Linked DNA regions of Homo sapiens: region 2 is linked to region 1. Evidence: fine-mapped expression QTL. Tissue or cell type: minor salivary gland. Region 1 holds a variant in brackets; the other region holds the start of a gene. All regions are shown on one strand. Distances are between the middles of the regions.

Region 1 (8,101 bases):
TGAGTTCTCTGTGTTGCCCAGGCTGGTCTCTAACTCCTGGGCTCAAGTGATCCTCCCGCCTCTGCCTTCCAAAGTGGTGGGATTATAGGAGTGAGCTACCACACCCAGCCTGCCTGTCTTCCTATATATAAAGTTTTATTGGCACATAGTTGAGCCTATGAGTCATTTTTGTCTATGGCTGCTCTTGAACCATGACATCAGAGTTGAATCATCACAACAGAGACCCTACGGCCCAGAAAGTCTAAAACATTTACTACCTGGCCCTTTGCAGAAAAGGTTGTTGAACCCTACCGTAAACTCCAGTTGTTTACTTGCTCATGGCCAGAAGCAGAAATTCAAACTTGCAAACTCCGAAGTGACATATATGGGTTTTTACTTCTGAATTCATCTGTGATGGGGAGTAATGTGGATGTTGATAATATTGGGCGTGGTGGCTCACACCTGTAATCCTAGCATTTTGGGAGGTGAAGGCAGGCAGATCACCTGAGGTCAGGACTTCAAGACCAGCCTGGTCAACATGGTGAAACCCTGTCTCTAGGAAAAATAAAAAATTAGCTGGGTGTGGTGGCGCATGCCTGTAATCCCAGCTACTCAGGAGGCTGAGGTGGGAGAATCACCTGAACCCAGGAGGTTGGAGGTTGCTGTGAACGGAGATCCTGCCACTGCACCCCAGCCTGGGCCACAGAACAAGACCCTGTCTCTGCTGGGCACGGTGGCTCACGCCTATAATCCCAGCACTTTGGGAGGCTGAGATGGGTGGATCACAAGGTCAGGAGATCGAGATCACCCTGGCTGAAATAGTGAAACCCCATCTCTACCAAAAAGACAATAATTAGCCAGGCGTGGTATTGTGCACCTATAGTCCCAGCTACTCAGGAGGCTGAGGCAGGAGAATCGCTTGAACCCAGGAGGCAGGGGTTGCAGTGAGCGGAGATCACGCCACTATACTCCAGCTTGGGTGACAGAGGGAGACTCCATCTAAAAAAAAAAAAAAGACCCTATCTCATAAAAAAAACAACATTAAAAACAAAACAAACAAAACATTGTACGGTACGGGGGTTTTTAGTATTTGACCAGGGTTATGCAACCATCATCGCAATCTAATTTCACAACGTTTTCATCACGTCCCCCCAAAAAAACCCCATACCTTTTAGCAATCACTCCCCATTTCTCCCTTCCCCACAGCCCCTGACTACCACCAATCTACTTTCTGTCTCTATAGATTTGCCTATGCCTATTTGGGACATTTCATATAAATGGAATCCCATAATACGTGACCTTTTGTGTCTGACTGATTTTTGTCTGAGAAACATGTTTACAAGGTTCCCCCACGCTGTAGCAGGCAGGTGACAGGGTGACAGTGCTTCATTTTTTTTTTTTTTTTTGAGACAGGGTCTCACTCCCTTGCCCAGGCTGGGGTGCAACGGTGTGATCTCAGCTCACTGCAATCTCCATCTCCTGGGTTCAAGTGATTCTCCTGCCTCAGCCTCCTAAGTAGCTGGGATTACAGGCATGCACCACCACACCCGGCTAATTTTGTATTTTTAGGAGAGACGGGATTTCTCCATGTCGGTCAGGCTGGTCTCGAACTCCCGACCTCAGGTAATCTGCCCACCTCAGCCGCCCAAAGTGCTGGGATTACAGGTGTGAGCCACCGTGCCCGGCCTTTTTTTTTTTTTTTTTTTTTTTTTGAGACAGGGTCTCACTCCCTTGCCCAGGCTGGAGTGCAGTGTCACAATCTCTGCTCACTGCAACCTTCACCTTCCAGGTTCAAGCAATTCTCCTGCCTCAGTCTCCCCAGTAGCTGGGATTACAGGTGCGTGCCACCACACGCAGCTAATTTTGTATTTTTAGTAGAGACAGAGTTTCACCATGTTAGCCAGGCTGGTCTCGAACCCCTGGCCGCAAGTGATCTGCCCACCTCAGCTTCCCAAAGTGCTGGGATTACAGGCATGAGCCACTGAGCCCAGCCTTGAACTGTACACTTTTAAAGGGTGAACTTCATTGCTTTTCATGGTTAAGGGATAGTCCATGGTAGGGAATAGGCCGCACTGTGTTTCCCCACTCATCTGTTGATGCATATTTGGGTTGCTTCCACTTTCGGGGCTAAAATAAATAATGCTGCTGTGAACATTCACGTACACATTTTTCTGTGAATGTACATTTTTGTTTCTTTTGGGTATACACGTAGGAGTTCAGTTGCTGGGTCATAGAGTAACTGCATGTTTAAGCATTTGAGGAACCACCAGACTGTTTTCCAAAGTGGCTGAGCCATTTTACTTTCCCTCCAGCAGTAGGTGAGGGTTTCAGTTCCTCCACATCTTCCACAGCACTTTTTTTTTTAAGCTGGAGTTTTGCTCTTGTTGCCCAGGCTGGGGTGCAGTGGCGCAATCTCGGCTCACCGTAACCTCCACCTCCAAGATTCAACCGATTCTCCTGCCTCAGCCTCCTGAGTAGCTGGGCTTACAGGCACCCACCACCACGCCCAGCTGATTTCTTGTATTTTTAGTAGAGACGGGGTTTCGTCATGTTGGCCAGGCTGGTCTCGAACTCCTGACCTCAGGTGATCCACCCACCTCGGCCTCCCAAAGTGCAGGGATTACAGGGCTGAGCCACTGCGCCCGGCCAACACATTTTTTTTTTCTGAGATGGAGTTTCACTCTTCTTGCCCAGGCTGGAGTGCAATGGCGCCATCTCAGCTCACTCACTGCAACCTCTGCCTCCCAGTTTCAAAATTCTCCCGCTTCAGCCTCCTGAGTAGCTGGGACTAAAGGCGTGCACCACCACACCCAGCCAATTTTTTGCATTTTTGGCAGAGACAAGGTTTCACCATGTTGGCCAGGCTGGTCTCCAACTCCTGACCTCAAGCGATCTGCCTGCCTCGGCCTCCCAAACTGCTGGGATTACAGGCGTGAGCCACTGTGCCCGGCCCAATGTTCTCTATATATTCAGGATACAAGCCCCTTATTGGGTATGTGATTCGCAGACATTTTCTCCGATTCTGTGGGTTGTTAGTGTGAGCTGTTATTTCTTGCTCACCTTGAGCTTGTGGATGAGTAGAGAATCATATCTGCTAGGAATATGTGCACATTTCCCTGAGATGTAGAGAAAGATGAGTCTTTGGATGGAAAGGATGTGTGGGAAGGAAATCACCTCGCCCGCCTCCCGCCCCACAGCCTCTCACCCGTAACTTGCTGTTGAGGATTTTGTCATTGATGTCCTCGTCAAAGCACATCTGGGGGTAGACGTCGATGCAGTGGGTCCTCAGGTTCTGCTGGATCTGGAGATCCCACACAGGTGACCTCAGCCCACCCTGCCCACTCTGCCCTCTGCCCCCGCTGACCCCAGCCCTGCCCGGGCATCCAGATCACCCTGCGCCTGAAGGCCTCTCGCTCCTCCATGGTCAGGCTGTCGGCCCTGGCAATCACGGGCACCACATTCACAGTCCGGCACAGCCGCTGCAGGAACTCAATGTCCAGGGGCCGCAGGCTGCCGGAGGCAGGGCAGTGATGGGGGTGGCGGTGGTGGTGAGTGTATAAACGACAGCAGCAGGGCACGGGGGTGGGGGCAGCCGGCAGCCCATGGTGGGGACCCCTTCTCCTCCTCCCTGCCCCGTGCAGGTGGTCCTCGCCTTGCAGGTGCAGCCCCCTCACCAGTGCCCAGTGGGTGGTACAAAGTACACGCAGCAGTGCACCCGGGTGTCTGGGATGTGGCGCTGGCGGGTGATGAGGATCTCCTCCTGCAGGTACTGCTCGTATTGCTCGTTGATGTAGCCCAGGATGGGGTCCCAGCTGAGGCGGGAGGTGGACCCTCCCCTCAGAACTGTGCTGTGCCCAGAGAGCCCCACCCCTCTCCTCTGTGTCCTCTGGGCGGTCCTCCCTTGGGACGACGAATCGTCCCGGTTGGCCCGGGACCTGTGGGTCACCCCGGTACTTTCCCCCACTTCCCTGCATCATCAGAGACACACAGGGAGACCTCCTGCCATTCTCGGCTTCACTGTCTGTAAAATGGAGACAATAGTAGCACCTACGTTGCAAGT[A/C]AGGGAGGGGTGAGCATTAACTGTATTAAAGGGCCACAGCTGGGCCCAAACCACCAAGGAATCGCGCCTGATGGTTGCAGGGGTCTCCCTCCTCCTCTTCGAGTCCCTTCCCCTCTTGGGTATTGTCAACACTGTAAGTAGCCAAACAGATCCTTTTAAAAACAGGTGTCAGGCCAGGCCCGATGGCTCATGCCTGTAATCCCAGCACTTTGGGAGGCGGAGGCAGGAGGATCGCTCGAGCCCAGGAATTCGAGGCTAGCCTGGGCAACATGGGGAAACGCCAACTCTACAAAAAATACACAAATTAGCTCGGTGGGGTGGCACGTGCCTGTGGTCACAGCTACTCAGGAGGCTGAGGCAGGAGGGTCCTTGAGCTTGGGGAGGTCAAGGCTGCAGTGAGCCATGATCTCGCCACTGCACTCCAGCCTGGGAAACAGACTGAGACACTGTCTCTAAATAAATAAATAAATAAATAAATAAATAAATAAATAAATAAATAAAATGAAACCAGGGCCAGGTGCGGTGGCTTATGCGTGTAATCCCAGTGCTTTGGGAGGCTGAAGCAAGTGGATCACCTGAGGTCAGTAGTTCGAGACCAGCCTGGCCAACATGGGGAAATCCCCGTCTCTACTAAAAATACAAAAATTGGGCCGGGTGCAGTGGCTCACACCTGTAATCCCAGCACTTTGGGAGACTGAGGTGGGCGGACCACCCGAGGTCAGGAGTTTGAGACCAGCCTGGCCAACGTGGTGAAACCCCGTCTCTACTAAATAAATTCAAAAAAGTAGCCGAGCGTGTTGGCGGATGTCTGTAATCCCAGCTACTTGGGAGGCTGAGGCAGGAGAATTGCTTGAACCCCGGGAGGCGGAGGTTGCAGTGAGCAGAGATTGTGCCACTGCACTCTGGCCTGGGTGACAAGAGCGAGTCTGTCTTAAAAAAAAAAAAAATTAGCCGGAAATTGCTTGAACCCAGGAGGCAGAGGTTGCAGTGAGCCGAGATTGTGTCACTGCACTCTGGCCTGGGCGACAAGAGCTAGATTCTGTCTCAAAAAAAAAAAAGATCACACAGCCTGGCTGTTCCAGGTCTGGGGTGTTTCCCAAAGGTTGAAGGGGGAGGGGCACGGACAGGAGGGGACAGCCATGGCTTGGCCCCCACCTTTGAGAACCCACCACTTGTTGCGGGCACAGTGGCTCATGCCTGTAATCCCAGCACTTTGGGAGGCCGAGGCGGGTGGATCATCTGAGGTCAGGAGTTCAAGACCAGCCTGGCCAACATGGTGAAACCCCATCTCAACTAAAAATACAAAAAAAATTAGCTGGGCGTGGTGGCGGGCGCCTGTAATCCCAGCTACTTCGGGAGGCTGAGGCAGGAGAATCACTTGAACCTGGGAGGTGGAGGTTGCAGTGAGCCGAGATCATGCCATTGCACTCCAGCCTGGGTGACAAGAGTGAAACTCTGCCTAAAAAAAAAAAAAAAGAGAGAGAACCTACCAGTTGTCATTGTTGATCTGGTCCCCGAAGCCGGGCGTGTCCGTCACCGTCAGCTTCAGCTTCACACCCTTCTCCTCTATGACTGTGGAGGGAGAGCAGAGTCGGGAGAGACTGGACCCAGGTGGGATGGGGTGGGGCAGGGTGGGGTGAGGTGTGGGCAGGGGCTCACTCACCATGGGTCAGTGAATGCAGCTGCAGCGTCTGGGGTGTGGGCACCCCCAAGCCCGGTGGGTTTGACTTCCACACTTTGGACTTGAACAGCGTGTTCACCATCGTGGACTTGCCCAGCCCGCTTTGCCCTGGGAGTGGCAACCGGATGACAGCAGTTAGGGTGGGCGTTTTAGGCAGTTTTTCTCTAACTCTTTACTTTTCTATTTTATTTTTGGAGACAGGTTCTCACTCTGTCACCCAGGCTGGAGTGCAATGATGCAATCCCCGTTCACTGCAGCCTCGACCTTCCCAGACTCTAGTGATTCTCGCACCTCGGCCTCCCTAGTAGCTGGGACTGTAGGCACACGCCACCATACCCAGCTGATTTTTGCACTGCTTTTTTTTTTTTTTTTTTTGAGACGCAGTCTCGCTCTGTCACCCAGGCTGGAGCGCGATGGTGGGATCTCGGTTCACTGCAAGCTCCGCCTCCCAGATTCACGCCATTCCCCTGTCTCAGCCTCCCAAGTAGCTGGGACTACAGGCGCCCGCCACCACGCCTGGCTAATTTTTTTGTATTTTTAGTAGAGACGGGGTTTCACCATGTTAGCCAGGATGGTCTTGATTTCCTGACCTCATGATCCGCCTGCCTCAGCCTCCCAAAGTGCTGGGATTACAGGCGTGAGCCACCACACCCGGCCTTGCACTGTTTTTTAATTTTTAAGACAGGGTCTCAATCTGTCACCCAGACTCAAGTGATCGCAGCTCACTGCAACCTCCACCCTCAGGTTCAAACGATCCTCCCACCTCAGCCCCCCAAGTAGCTGGGATTCAGGTGCATGTCACCATGCCTGGCTAATTTTTAAATTTTTTTTGTAGAGATGGGGTCTTGCTGTGTTGCCTAGGCTGGTCATGAACTCCTGGCCTCCAGGGATCCTTCTGCTTCAGTCTTGCTCTGTCACCCAGGCTGGAGTACAGTGGCGCAATCTCGGCTCACTACAACATCTGCCTCCCAGGTTCAAGCAATTCTCCTGCCTTAGCCTCCTAAGTAGCTCCTAAGTACAGGCGCCCACCACCACGCCTGGCAAATTTTTGTATTTTTAGTAGAGACGGAGTTTCCCCATGTTGGCCAGGCTGTTTTCGAACTCCTGACCTCAAGTGACCCTCCTGCCTTGGCCTTTCAAAGTGCTGGAATTACAGGCTTGAGCCACCATGCCCGGCCTCATTTTTGTACTTTTTGTAGACATTAGGTTTTGCTAGTCTCAAACTCCTGAGCTCAAGTGATCCACCCACCTCAGTCTCCCAAAACCCTGGATTATAGGTGTGAGCCACCGCTCCAGGCACATTTTTGTCTTTTAATGACTCAGCATTTCTCAAATTTTCAATGACAACATCCCTGTGAGGTGCTATTATCAGGCCCACCTAAGAGATGGGGAGGGGCGACAGGCTGCCAAAGGTGAGGCCACACGCCCAGGCACGCGTAGCACTGTGGGTCTGTCCTGCCGTGGGCCCTACCTCTCACTCACCCACCACCATGATGTTGAACTCAAACCCCATCTTCATAGCCTTGATCTTCAGCTGGTCCAGCACAGCCTCAATGCCCACAGGACCAAGCATCTCGCAGGGTGGGGTGCTGGGGCTGGAGGGCTGCGAGGACAGGCAGGGAGAGGGGGAGCGCCTCAGGGGGTCCATGGGGGCCAAGGGTTCGAGATGCCTGTCACCAGGTGGGTGGGGAGAAGGGGGTCACTGGGGCTCAGAGGAGCCCACATTGACCTCTCCTATCTGAACCCCTATTTGAGCTTGGCCGTTGGCCAACCCCCTCCACACTTCATGCCTCTGGTGTACCCTAAGTGCCTGTAGTCCCAGGGGTGTGGCAAGGGTGCCTGTGGGGAGCTGTTTCTGCAGGGTGCCTCAACACCCATCCAGAGAGGCTCCGCTGCCCAAGGGTCTGCCCTGTCCCCACCTACAGCCCAGGCAGGGGCCTCTCAGGTCGCTTCCCCCAGCAGAGCCTGGAGGGCCAGGCAAAGTCCAGGATGGGTGTTTGCAGCCAGGCTGGAGTCCTGGAGGGGCTTCAGGGAGTGTGTATGGGGTGAAGTGGCTCCCGTCCCAGCAGGAAACTTGGGCAGGGGGCTCAGGAGGAGGTGCCCCCACTTTCCCCAGGGGGACACACAGCAGAGTTGATAGAGAGCGAGAAAGACGGCACAGGCATGAAGGTGACGGAGACAGAGAGAGAGAGACCAAGGTCAGGCAGGGAAGATGGCTGGGAGGGAGCGGTGCGAAGAGCCCACGGGGGGCAGAGAGAGAGAGAAGCAGCCTGCTGTGACACCTGGTGGACGTGGGTCCTGGTGGAGCTTCCAGGAGCTGCCTTGTCCTGGCAGGGCCTGGTGTGTGTGATGGGGGAGGGGAGAGGGTGACAGTTAACCGA
Region 2 (8,101 bases), 310 kb before region 1:
GTCCCAGCTACCAGGGAGGCTGAGGCTGGAGGAAAGCCTGAACCCAGGAGGTTGAGGCTGCAGTGAGCCGTGATCACACCACTGCACGCCAGCCTGGGTAACAGAGTAAGGCCCTGTCTCCAAAAAAAAAAAAAAAAAAAAATTCTTTATTATATGTATATTTTACCTCATAATTAAAAATAATCTATAAACAAATACTGAATTCTAGCTAATGTTATGCATGCTTTAGTATGGAAGGGCGGTGTACACATATCTGCAATTTACACAGAAATGCATCAAAAATAAGGACTGAGGCCGGGCACAGTAGCTCATAGCTGTAATCTAAGCACTTTGGGAGGGTAAGGGGGATGGGTTTTGCTTGAGGCCAGGAGTTTGAGACCAGCCTAGGCAGCAGGGTGAGACCCAGTCTCTACAAAAAATTAAAAAATCAGCTGGGCCTGTTAGCGCTCATCTGAAGTCCCAGCTACTCAGGCGAATGAGTCAGGAGGATTGCTTGAGGCTTGGAAGTCAAAGCTGTAGTGAGTGATGATTGAGCCACTGCACTCCAGCCTGGGCAACAGAGCAAGACCCTGACTCAGAAAAAAGTGTACACCAATGTTCCATGGCAGCATTATTCATAATAGCCAAAAAGTGGAAATAAATCAAGTATCCATCCACTGACGAATGGACAAACAGAATATAGTCTATCCATACGGTGGAATATTACTCAGCCATAAAAATAAGTAAAGCTGTCAGGAGTTCGAGACCAGCCTGACCAACATGGTGAAACCCCGTCTCTACTAAAAAATACAAAATTAGCTGGGTGTGGTGGTGCACACCTGTAATCCCAGCTACTTGGGAGGCTGAGGCAGGAGAATTGCTTGAACCCGGGAGGCAGAGGTTGCAGCGAGCAGAGATCACACCATTGCACTCCAGCCTGGGCAACAAGAGAGAAACTCTGTCTTAAAAATAAAAAAGTAAAGTTGGCCGGGCGCGGTGGCTCAAGCCTCTAATCCCAGCACTTTAGGAAGCTGAAGTGGGCAGATCACCTGAGGTCAGGAGTTTGAGACCAGCCTGGCCACATGGCAAAACCCCATCTCTATTAAAAATACAAAAATTAGCCAGGCATGGTGGCTCACGCCTGTAGTCCCTGCTACTCAGGAGGGTGAGACAGGAGAATCGCTTGAACCCGAGTGGCAGAAGTTGCAGTGAGCAGAGATCACGCCACTGCACTGCTGCCTGGGCAACAGAGCGGGACTCTGTCTCAAAAAAAAAAAAAAAAAGAGTAAAGCCCGGACACACACTACAACATGAACAAACCTTGAAAACATGCTAACTGAAGAAGCCAGAGAGAAAAGGCTACATATTATGATTTTATTCATATGAAATGTCCCGAATAGACAAATCCATAGAAACCAAAAGTAGATTGGAGCTTTCTAGGGGTTGGCTGGGAGGAGTAAGAATGGGGAGTAACTGTTCACGGGTTCATGGAGTTCTTTTTTTTTTTTTTTTTTTTGAGATCAGGTCTCACTCTGTTGCCCAGGCTGGAGTGCAGTGGCACAATCAGGTCACTGCAGCCTTGACCTGCTGGACTCAGGTGATCCTCCCACCTCAACCTCCTAGGTAGCTATAGGTGCATGACACCACGCCCCACTAATTTTTGTATTTTTTTGTAGAGACGAGATTTTGCCCTGTTGTTCAGGCTGGTCTCAAACACCTCAGCTCAAGCGATCTGCCCATTTGGTCCAACTAAAGTGCTGGGATTACAGGGTTGAGCCACTGCACCTGGGCCAGAGTTTCTTTTTGGAGTGATGGAAATTTTCTAAAATTGATTGTGGTGATGGTTGTACAATTCTATGAATACACTAGAAACCAGTGAGTTGCACACTTTAAACAGGTAGATTGTATAGTACGTGAATTATATCTCAATAAAGCTGTTAGAGATATTAAATATGTATAAATAAGAAAAAATAGGAATGAAATAATATGCTATCATTTGAAAAAATGATAACATGTTATCTACTCTGGCAGGATATTCAAGAAACTTGGTAACAGCAATAGATGAGGTGGAAGAGGAGGCTAGGAAGAAGATTTAATTTTGGTATCATGTTCAAGTACTCCTATTCAAATAAGTTAAGTAACTCATTTTTTTTTAATTTGGAAAGCAGGTCTGGCGTGGTGGTTCATGCCTGTAATACCTGCACTTTGGGAGGCCGAGGCGGGTCATCACCTGAGGTCAGGAGTTTGAGACCAGCCTGACCAATATGATGAAACCCCGTCTCTACTAAAAATACAAAAATTAGCCGGGCGTGGTGGCATGCCCTTGTAATCCCAGCTACTCGGGAGGCTGAGACAGGAGAATCGCTTCAACCCGGGAGGCAAAGGTTGCAATGAGCCGAGATCGTGCCATCGCACTGCAGCCTGGGTGACAGAGCAAAACTCCGTCCAAAAAAAAAAAAATTGGAAAGCAATTTGGGCCTCGTTCCTGCGACCACAGCCCCAACCTGGGTCGGGGGTCCCAGTGACCTTACCCCTCCCTGCAGACCCCAGGACGGGCGGTCTTCAGGGCTAGGCGCCCTGGCTCTGCAAGGGCCCCAGTCTGGGGTTTGGCTCACCTGTGCCTCCGAAAACCACCACCAGTTTCTTGTCCACCATGAGGACGAGAATGGGACGAATCCGGTCCAGAGATCTGGGGGTAATGGGAGGCGTGGAGTTGGGGGTGGGGCCGGGGTTCCCGCCAGGAGCGACAAAGGACACCCCCATTGTCTATGCATCGAGTATGTGTCGAAGGGGGCGGCTGGGCCCGGAGCGGCAAGACGCCTGTCCCGAGATATCGGGGTCCCGCGACCCACCTCGTGTCCCTTGGGCCCGATCCCCTCCTCCTTCCCGCCTCCCCCGGTTCCAGTCACCCGCCCCCCGGCCCGGGTCCCACCGGCTGGAGTGACCTCCTCGCCGCGGCCTGGGCGGGACAAGTTCCAGGAGCCCGGGACCCCGATTCTGCGGCCGAGTCCACTGCAGAGGCGGGGATGGAGCTGCGCGCTAGGCGCCAACTCCCTCCCCGCAGCTCCGGCCCCACCTGGCAGAGCGCCGCTCACGGAAGCCCAGCGTCGGAGGACCCCTGGCTGCAGCCGCCAATCCCGACGTGTCGGCCGAAACCCCTCCTCCGGCGCAGTTGGCTCCTCCTGGATCCCGCGGGACTCGGCGTCGTTTCCGGGTTTGCCCGCCCCAGGCACGTGCACAGTGAGTTTGTGTAAATCCAGTTAGACCAAAATGAGCGAGGTGGAGAGCCTCTTAACCGGATGCTACGGGTGATGACTGGGAGGAGGAGAAAAATTACCTCTTTATCTTGCATGAACATCTTAATTTTCAGGTATTGGGCGTCAGGCAAAGATAATTAAAGCTATGTCCATGAGTCTTATCCCTTGAGGCCTTGTCCGCTTGATATTTTCTTTGCCTAACTCACTTTTAAAATTTTATTATTTTTATTTTTTTGAGACAGTGTCTTGGTCCGTCGCCCAGGCTGGTGTGCAGTGGCGCGATCTCGGCTTACTGCAACCTCCGCCCCCCGGGTTCAAGAGATTCTCCTGCCTCAGCCTCCCGAGTAGCTGGGATTACAAGCATGTGCCACCAAGCCCGGCTAATTTTTGTATTTTTTAGTAGAGACGGGGTTTCACCAGGTTGACCAGGCAGGTCTCGAACTCCTGACTTAAAGTGATCCACCCACCTCAGCCTCCCAAAGTGCTGGGAGTACAGGTGGGAGCCACCGTGCCCAGCCCTAACTCACTTCTGAAGTTGCTGCTACTTGCACTGATTTCAGTTTTTTTTTGTTTTTGTTTTTTGTTTTCAAGGTGGAGTCTTGCTCTGTGGCCCAGGCTGGAGTGCAGTGGTGGTGCGATCTTGGCTCACTGCAACTTCCGCCTCTTGGGTTCAAGTGATTCTCCTGCCTCAGTTTCCTGAGTAGCTGGGATTACAGGCAGGAGCCACCATGCCCGGCTAAAATTTTTTTGTATTTTTGGTAGAGACGGGGTTTCAACATGCTGGCCAGGCTGGTCTCGAACTGCTGACCTCAAGTGATCTTCCCGCCTCAGGCTCCCAAAGTGCTGGGATTACAGACATGAGCCACCACACCCGGCCCACGATTTCAGTAATTTCTTTGTGTTCAGTAAAACTAAAAAATGACTCTGGGCTGGGTGCGGTGGCCTGTAATTGCAGTGATTTGGGAGGCCGAGGCGGGTGGATCACCTGAGCTCAGGAGTTCGAGACCAGCCTGGCCAACATGGTGAAACCCCCGTCTCTACTAAAAATACAAAAATTAGCCGGGCGTGGTGGCAGGCGCTTGTAATCCCAGCTATTCGGGAGGTTAAGGCAGGAGAATCGCTTGAACCCGGGAGAAGGGGGTTGCAGTGAGCCGAGATCACGTCATTGCACTCCAGCCTGGGCGACGAGCAAAACTCGGTCTCAAAAAAAGAAAAATCATTCTGTCATTCTGGCCGCTGTTTGAAGAATGCGAATAATGCAACAGGGAGATCAGATACAAGACTGGTAACCGAGGTGTCAGAGTTGAGACTCAGTTTCGCAGATTGCATTGGCAAGTGACCAAGTGGGTGGTGCCACGGTTGACAACCCTATTTCTTACATCACTGAGTGGATGTACAAGGATTAAACCACACTGGGGAAGAAAAGTGCTCAACCCTGAGGCACCCTCACACACCTCGGCTCTTGTGAACACTAGTGTTCCTGCCGAAGCACGCCTACTTACCCCGCTGAGCAGAGCCTGAGCCTGCAACCTCCAGAGACCTGGGGAAAGCCACATACTCCGCTTCCCGCCCCCGGCAAGGGCGTGTCAGCTACAAGGGGCGTGTCATCTCTAGGCCCCGCCCCGCGCTGCGTGCCCACGTTGCGCCGGCCTCGCGCCAGTCCGCTGGGCTGCAGGGACTGCGGCGCCTGAGGGAGTCGCTGACGGGCACGCTGACTGGAGGCTGGCGGACAGGCGACAGCGACCTGCGGCAGGTGAGCTGTCCGCGCCCTCCCGGGGCCTTCCTTCCGCCCGGCTTCTCGGACCGCGCTGCGTCCTTCGCGGGCCCTGCCTCGGTCCAGGCCTTCGGACCTGGGCTTGGCCGGGCCACAGCCCTTTGGGTCCCCTGCGCCGGTCTGAGGGGAGACCCGGCCGGGGGCGGCCGGAAGCTGGGTGAGGCCGGGCAGAAGGACGAAGAAGGGCGTGGAGGGGCTGTCAGGGGAGGGCGAAACCGCGGACGCCGCTCTCCAGAAGTCGTCTCCCCGGGGGCGCGGGGAGGCCTGAATGGCTCTCTTTGGCGTCCCCGTTGGGCCCACCCTCTCCCAGCGTCACGGCTATGCTGGGCGAGGTGACCCCCGGGGTCGTAGCTGGGGGCGTCGGCGGTGCAGACAGGGGATGCCGGCAGAGATTGGAGCCCGGCTTGGCTGTTTCCCGGGCTGTTGGCATTGACCGGGGCTCTGCCCTTCCTCTAATGCCCTTATCTCTATAGGAAGTGCCCCTTGAGTGGGTGTCGTGACTTCACGAGTGAACCCTGGTACGCCCTGGAGCAGAGTCGGACTGGGAGGGATCAAGTGTGGGGGCAGCCGGTTAGTCCGGACGCGGGTTTACCTATTACTTTCTGAGCGCAGTGCTCTGGGTGGATTAATTGCCCTGCAAAAGCTGCCGGGACCTCCTTGCAGTCTTTGCACGAGGCCTGCCTGTGTCATGCCATTTAAATCGCGTCTGGGCCGGGTCGGTGGCTCACGCCTGTAATTCCAGCACTTTGGGAGGCCAGGGCGGGCGGATTGCTTGAGGTCAGGAGTCCGAGACCAGCCTGGCCAACATAGTGAAACCCCGTCTCTACTAAAAATACAAAAATCAGCCGGGCATGGTAACGTGAGCCTGTAGCTCCAGCTACTTAGGAGGCTGAGGCAGGAGAATCGCTTGAACCCGGGAGGCAGAGGTTGCAGTGAGCCGAGATCACGCCATTGCACTCCAGCCTGGGCGACAGAGCAAGACTCCATCTAAAAAAAAAAAAAAAAAAAAAAAAAATCGCTTCTGATGAGCCGGTTGTCGTGGCCTGTGGCTGTCCATCCTTACGTACTGTGTTTTGTTGATGGCGCTACAAACCAGACAAGGTGGAGTGTGATTGAAGAAAGAAACGCTGGCCGGTGCAGTGGCTCACTCCTGTAATCCCAGCACTTTGGGAGGCCGAGGCAGGCGGATCACCTGAGGTCAGGAGTTCGAGATCAGCCTGGCCAACATGGTGAAACCCCGTCTCTACTAAAAATACAAAAAAGTTAAACGGGCGGGGTGGCGCGTGTCTGTAATCCCAGCTACTGGGGAGTTTGAGGTTGGAGGATCACTTGAGCCCACGAAGTGGAGATTGCAGTGAGCTGAGATCGCATCACTGCACTCCAGCCTGGGTGACAGAGTGAGACCCTGTCTCAAAAAAGAAAAAAATAAATTATCACAAGACAAAATTTGTGCTTATCAGGAGTTCACAGTTAAGACATATATAAGCTTACTTGGTGAAATTAGAAAAAGTTATCAGATAAAACATTCAGGTTTAAACACTGGTGAGGGTGTGGGAATTTGTGGAGCCTTGGAAACACACTCATTGAATGACCTCATCTACCTGGGGATGTGAAGAGGGAAATCCTGTGATTCCTCCATTGTCTGACTTGATTTCCTTTTTTCCTTGGCTGTGGCAACATGTTGAAGTGCTGTGAGTCACCAAAAGGGGGAACGTGAGCAACTCTAGAAATGCCAGTGCCAGTGAGTTACAGACAATAAAGCATTGACCGCCTTTAGCTCACCCCTCATCAAGTCTGTTGAAAACTTGTAAAATTGGACAGCTAGAGCTACCTTGATTTTTTGGTTTCCTTTTAACAGCTGACTCTCTTCACAGGACAGTTGGGCTCTACATCAGGATTGCACCCAAAACTGGAATATCACTCCTCCAGGAGGAAGATATATTTGAAAATTAGAATTGTGGGCCCGGTGCAGTGGCTCATGCTTGTGATCCCAGCACTTTGGGAGGCCGAGATGGGCGGATCACCTGAGGTCGGGAGATAGAGACCAGCCTGACCAACATGGAAAAACCCCATCTCTACTAAGAAAAAAATAATAATAATACAAAAATTAGCTGGGCATGGTGGTGTGTGCCTGTAATCCGAGCTACTTGGGAGGCCGAGGCAGGAGAATCACTTGAACCTGGGAGGCAGAGGTTGCGATGAGCCAAGATTGTGCCACTGCATTCCAGCCTGGGCAACAGGAGCAAAACTGCATCTCAAAAAAAAAAAAAAGAAAGAAAGAAAATTAGAATTGTGTATTTCACTGTAAAATTTGAAATTCAGCTTTAACTCCTTGGAAAGGAAAGAGATGAAAAACTTGACCTAGACTGGGTGCGGTGGCTCACGCCTGTAATCCCAGCACTTTGGGAGACCAAGGCGGGTGGATCACCTGAGGTCAGGAGTTCGAGACCAGCCTGGCTAACATTGTGAAACCCCGTCTCTACTAAAAATACAAAAATTAGCCTTGCAAAAAGTAGCCTGTAATCCCAGCTACTCGGGAGGCTGAGCAAGGAGAATTGCTTGAACCTGGGAGGCAGAGGTTTCAGTGAGCCAAGATCATGCCATTGCACTCCAGCCTGGGCGACAAGAGCAAAACTTCATCTCAAAGAAAAAAAAATTCTATCAGAGTGAACAATAAGTAGGATGCTAGCACATACCTGTAATCTCAGCTACTTGGGAGGCTGAGGCAGGAAGTTAATACTTGATGAGCCTAAGTTTTTGGTGTCTTTGGATGCTGCTTGTCGATCTAAGGGGTTTCCAAACGCTTCTTTTTTGGTAAAATTGGGATTATGACTAGGAATCTGTTTTTTGGAGTTTCCCAGGTGATCCTTGTTTGGGGTCCTTGTCTAAGGCACAGGCTGGAAAGAGGAGGGAGTGGACTGGCAGGGAAGATAGAGCAGTAAGCGAATAGAATACCTGGGGAAAGGGACGCCAGAAGAGTGATTGTTGTCTGGTGAACTGTGCTGTCAGTGTGTATGTCAGAAGCCAACAAAGTGGATATTCTCTTCACTCAGCTTAGGGAAAAAATTAATTTTTGTTTCACAGATAGATT

The links. PIP is the estimated chance that this variant, and not a neighbour inherited with it, causes the effect.
Region 2: it holds the start of NMRAL1, and the variant in region 1 is fine-mapped to the expression of NMRAL1 in minor salivary gland (GTEx, PIP 0.94).

The regions. Positions count from the first base shown.
Region 1 is chr16:4,780,278-4,788,378 of GRCh38, forward strand. SEPTIN12 (septin 12) reads right to left here and starts at 8,068. Exons shown (of 10, transcript NM_144605.5): 1 at 8,003-8,068; 2 at 7,203-7,390; 3 at 5,703-5,828; 4 at 5,530-5,611; 5 at 3,654-3,791; 6 at 3,372-3,489; 7 at 3,185-3,280. The coding sequence starts at 7,368. The variant A/C (reference allele first, on the strand shown) is at 4,040.
Region 2 is chr16:4,471,499-4,479,599 of GRCh38, forward strand. NMRAL1 (NmrA like redox sensor 1) reads right to left here and starts at 3,127. Exons shown (of 6, transcript NM_020677.6): 1 at 3,056-3,127; 2 at 2,595-2,668. The coding sequence starts at 2,634. HMOX2 (heme oxygenase 2) reads left to right here and starts at 4,900. Exons shown (of 6, transcript NM_002134.4): 1 at 4,900-4,989. LOC124903636 (a long non-coding RNA gene) reads right to left here. Exons shown (of 3, transcript XR_007064964.1): 3 at 7,766-8,063. RefSeq lists an enhancer at 4,696-5,197.